Linked DNA regions of Homo sapiens: region 1 is linked to region 2. Evidence: fine-mapped expression QTL. Tissue or cell type: aorta. Region 2 holds a variant in brackets; the other region holds the start of a gene. All regions are shown on one strand. Distances are between the middles of the regions.

Region 1 (2,600 bases), 30 kb before region 2:
CCCTGGGAGGTTATTGGGAGAGTGGAGAGGTGTTGATGAGAGGATCCTGGCATGTGGAAAGACAGGGTGGAAGAAATCCTGGATGCCTCTGAGGTCCCAGGTTTCTAGTATACCCTCTGGCTGGACCATGGGGAGATAGGGCAAAAAAAGGAAGGAGGGGGGCCCACAGCCTGCTCTAGCTCTGCGCGGGGGCTTGGCTCAGCATGGGAGAGACCAGAGAGAGCAAGAGGCTGCATGAAGGAAGCACAGCCAGCTCACTATGGTCTAAGGAGAGAACAGGGATTGACCTCAGTTTTAACCACCATGCCCTTTGCTCTCCAGGGCTCTGGGGCCGGCCCAGGTCAGCCACTTGGTGGGATTCCAGCCTCAGGGTGGCTGAGCTGCAGGTGCAGCACCCGGCCTCCAGGTGGCACCAATCCGCTTACTTTGAGGTGGGCTCTGACAACCAGCTGAGCTGCCCACAGTCCCTCAGACTCCCGAGGTCCTGGGAGCAGGGATCAAGGTGGTCCCCAGGCCGTAAACCTGACAGAGGCTGCAGGAGTGCATTTCCACCCAGGGTGCACTCAGCGGGTGTAACTCCACACCCGTTTCTTTGGAGTCAAGGCCCGGCCTCTCAGTGAGGAGACTGCTCCTGGTTGCCCACCGTCGGGTCATCCCAGCCTGCAGTGGAACCCTCCGCAGCCTGGCCTCTTCCAGGGTAGCCCCTCACTCCCCTCTCTCCTGTCCTAGCAGACAGGCCAGGGAGGGTGGACGAGTTCCAGCTCTGGGGATGTCCCATCAGCTGTGTCACCTTGAACAAATCATTTTGCCTCTTGGGTCTCAGTTTCCTGCAGTGTGAAACGTGGTGGAGGCATGAGGGGCAATGGGAGCCCCAAGGCCTCTTTCAGAGACCTCCTCTGGGTCCCATGTGACCTCGTGGCTGTCCCCAAAGGCAAGAGGGTCCCCAGCCCTGCGGCCAAGGCCCTGGGACACCCTATCCAAACAAATGCAGGTCTCTGACGGGCTGAGCTTTGCTCGCTTGGGTTTCTTTGCTTTCTTCCTTTTTTTTTTTTCTTTCCTGGATGAAATTCCTGCCAGCTCCGAAGGAAGGAGGGAAGAGGAGCGAGCCGCAGTGTAGAAAGTTTCCTTGACTCCTCCTCCGGCTGGGTCTCCCTCCCTTGCCAAGCCCAGCCTGTGAAACTGAATAACGAAGATCACTCAACAATGCCTGCCCCTCTCTGACTGCACCGTCCCGGCGCTCCCACCGCCGCCGCCGCCGCCCAATAGAGCCCCTGGGGCGGTCCCCACCGACGGTGCAGCCCGCCGGGACCGGGAGGAAGCAGCTGCGGCCATCGCGCCGTGCGTCCGCGCCCGGCCGCCAGGTGCCCCAGTAGCCCGACCGCCGAGATGCCCAGCCCGCCGGGGCTCCGGGCGCTATGGCTTTGCGCCGCGCTGTGCGCTTCCCGGAGGGCCGGCGGCGCCCCCCAGCCCGGCCCGGGGCCCACCGCCTGCCCGGCCCCCTGCCACTGCCAGGAGGACGGCATCATGCTGTCTGCCGACTGCTCTGAGCTCGGGCTGTCCGCCGTTCCGGGGGACCTGGACCCCCTGACGGCTTACCTGTGAGTACTGCCCGCCTGTCCCCGCCTGGTCCTGCGGGCTGCTGGCTAGCGCCCAGTCCCGGCCTCAGCAGGGCACCTGCTTGCTTGGTGCCCTGGGGCATGGGCATCCCGGAGAGGGTTTGCCCCCTTCCAAGTTGACCGTTGCGGGACTGGGGAGGGGAGAAGAGTCTGAGACTAAATACCAGGCGAGCAGGGAGACCGGGCTTCCCTGACTTGGCTTCCCCATTGGCCTCCGTGCTTGTGGGCTGACTATGGGAGCCCAGGCTTGGCGAGGTGGGTTCTGGACCCTGAGCGGGAGGGCGCGGGGCTGGCTGCTCCATCTCCTGTTGCTGCATTCTCTTCTAGCAGAGCAGTGCCCGGGATGGTGGCTGAGGGTAAAGCTGACAGAACTGGAGGTGGAGGTGAGGGGAGCGTGCCCCAGTAGGGTGGAAATAATGTCTGTTCTTCTGCCATGGTGAGGACAACAGGGCTGTCACACTGAGGCTGGGTGGCCTTCGTGGGGGCGGGGGGGGCGGGTTTCCTAGAAGCTGGGAGGGGGGCCTTATCCACTCTTGTCTCCTCAGAAAGGGACTCTGCCAGCACCATCTCCCTTCACTGGGGCCTCCTGGCTCCCCCAGGGGCCTCCCTAAAGTCATGTCCCAAGAGGCTGTGTTGGAGACACTAATTTGTGGGCAGGCGCCGAGGCTGAAAACCAGAGAACCATTTTTAGCGTCTGAGTTGGGGTGAGATGGCGCGTGAAGGGGACCCTACTGGGGGCAGCTGTCCTGTCTGTCTGGCTCATGGGAGCTTCCCCTCAGAGCTGGAGGGCTGGGGGCTCTGGCTGCTCACCACCTGGGCAGGAGGAGGGTGAGAGAGCACATTCCAGGCCACCCACCTGCACCCCCAGCCCCGCTCTGGGGCAAGGAAACCTCCTCCAGCCCAGCTCTGCAGGCTCTATCAACTTCCTCAGAGGAGCTGGGAGCAGGTGGGAAAGCCTGGTGGGGCCTTCTGCTGAGGGCTAGG
Region 2 (2,500 bases):
TGAATGGGGCTCCCTCCACCCCTGAACAGTTGAAATTCACCCTCCTTGCCCCACCCCACCCCCTTTACTGAGCACTGCAGCTGGGCTTTGTGTTGTTTTGGGGCAGGATGTGGGGGCGGGTGGAGGGGTTCAGGCCCCCTCCTCCGCAGGGGAGAACAATGAGGCCGCTAGTCAGGGTGGTGGGGCAGAGGGAGTGGGTGGGGTGGGGGCCATGGAGGGACATCAGAGGCTCTGCGGCCCGGCCCCTGGGGGGACAGCTGAGTGATGAGGCCTGAGTCACACGCCCTGAGTGCTCCTTGAACTCCCGCTGCGTTCCTGTCGAGACACATCCAGAAATGCACAGGGTAAATATTTAGAGGTAATCATTTTTTTTCGGCACCTCGAGCCTCCTGCCTCACTGAGAATGAGCCAGGGGTGGGACACCAGGGGGAGGAGTCCGATCTGGCCCAGCTTCTGCGCTTGGGTTTCTGTGGGTGCCACCCTACGTTCCCCTGACACTGTCCAGTGTGCTCCTGCACCTTCGCATTTCAGCCACAATCCAAGACTAGTGGGGCCTGAAAACATCCTGAGGACCAAACCCTGGCTTAAAATCCATCCACAGGCTGGGCGCAGTGGCTCTCTCCTGTAATCCCAGCACTTTGGGAGGCCAAGGCAGGAGGATCACTTGAGGTCAGGAGTTCGAGACCAGCCTGGCCAACATCATGAACCCCATTTCTACTAAAAATACAAAAATAGCCAGGCGTGGTGGCAGGTGCCCATAATCCCAGCTACTCAGGAGGCTGAGGCAGGAGAATCACTTGAGCCCCGGAGGCGAAGGTTGCAGTGAGCCGAGATCACACCACTGTACTCCAGCCTGGGTGACAACAGTGAAACTCTGGGGAAAAAAAAATCCATCAACAAACTCTCTGGGTTCTGCCTCTCTCCCACCTGAAACTATGGCCACAGCACACCACCTACAGCTTCTGCGGATCCCATTTCTAGACCGGCAAGCCCAGAGGTGTTCTGCAGGGGAGCAGGGAGGGAATGGTAGATGAGAAGCAGCGCTGGGTGCAGCATGCCAGTTCCTTGGTTCTA[C/T]CCTGCACGGAATGTCTTCCTTCCTTGGAGGACATGGAGTCCAGAGCCCAGGCTTTATCAAAGATAAAACATTTGAGACTAAACAGTCTTTTTATAGATTGGAACAGGACTCCCAAGCACACGCTCTCCAGGCTGTTCCCAGCCTGCCTTTCTGGGCACACAGAAAGCACACGCATTTCTTGGGGGGAAATGCAGACACTGAGGTTTGAGGGCAACAGTGCATGTCTAGGGAAAGGAGAAAGCCTCAAGAAGGCTTGGGGGCAGTGCCCAGCTTGTGGTGGTCTGGTCTGAGCCCACCTCTGTACCCCCTCAGGGAAGGGGCAGGCAGAGACGAGAATCAGGCATTAGGAGTTTGAAGTAGGATGGAATGCAAATGTGTCAGGCACACACACACAGTCTCACACACTGTTGCTCATCCAGGCACAAACTGTGAAGAAGATGCCAACACAGGGTAGGACCCACAGAGGAAGGTACCAACTCCTCTCTACTACTTTCCTCCTTCCATCTTTCCCTCAGTGTCCTGTGGGCAAGTGTCCCAGCCCCACAGGCCTGTGAAAAGGCACCAGCCCCTCTCCCACCGGCCTGTGGGGCTGGGACACTTGCCCACAGGACCCCGAGGGAAAGGCAAGAGGAGAAAAGCAAATATGTACCTTGTCCATACTATTTATTAGGCAGTCTGTAAGCATTAGCTCACTTAATCTTTACAAGCACCCTACCAGCTTGGTGCTGCCCTATTTTTATAGATGAGGTCAACTAGGGGCCCAGAGGTCAAGGGCCCAACGTCTGATAGGTAACTGCAGAGGAGAGATGTGACCTCAGGGCCTTTTGACTTCGAAGCTCAGTGCTCCTTTCTCTCTGTTTTCTTGAGTGTAAAATGGAGATAATGATGGAAGCTAATTTGGGGTTATTGTGAGAATGGAAGGAGGTTGTTTGGGTAAAGATTAGCCGGTGTCTGACACAGAGTGGACCTGCAGTAAATGCCAGGGTAATTATTGTGATTATTTTGTGTGCGGGGCCTCTAAGAGGACAGTGACACTGAAACCACCCACAGGGTCTGTCAGATAATATGAGCTTAAGATGATTGAGGCTGTGGATCCGCAGAGGGACTGGGATCCTTACCCCACCTGGGAATCTAGTGGTGTGCCAGTTCTGTGATGTGCCAAGGTGTCATGTCTTCCAGGTGGACTAAGACAGTGGTCCCTAACCTATTTGGCACCAGGGACCAGTTTCATGGAAGATAATTTTTTTCCACGGACAGGGGTGGAGTGTGGGGGATGGTTTCGGGATGAAACTGTTCCACCTCAGATCATCAGGCATTAGTTAGAGTCTCATAAGGAGCATGCAACCTAGACCCCTCGCATGCGCAGTTCACAGTAGGGTTCACACTCCTATGAGAATCTTTTGCTGCCTCGGCTGATCTGACAGG

Which allele goes with the higher level. Positions count from the first base shown, and alleles are read on the strand shown. Sizes are in standard deviations (SD) of each study's normalised expression.
With allele T in place of C in region 2, the expression in aorta of the gene that starts at base 1,196 in region 1 is lower (small effect, 0.26 SD a copy in GTEx).

What was found. PIP is the estimated chance that this variant, and not a neighbour inherited with it, causes the effect.
Region 1: it holds the start of LGR6, and the variant in region 2 is fine-mapped to the expression of LGR6 in aorta (GTEx, PIP above 0.99).

The regions. Positions count from the first base shown.
Region 1 is chr1:202,192,604-202,195,203 of GRCh38, forward strand. It overlaps LGR6 (leucine rich repeat containing G protein-coupled receptor 6), which reads left to right and starts at 1,196. Exons shown (of 18, transcript NM_001017403.2): 1 at 1,196-1,598. The coding sequence starts at 1,387. RefSeq lists enhancers at 1-585, 280-329.
Region 2 is chr1:202,222,221-202,224,720 of GRCh38, forward strand. The region is part of intron 1 of LGR6 (leucine rich repeat containing G protein-coupled receptor 6); the gene reads left to right. Among named protein-coding and RNA genes, the nearest start is that of LGR6, 30 kb to the left of the region's middle. RefSeq lists a silencer at 1,761-2,055. The variant C/T (reference allele first, on the strand shown) is at 1,075.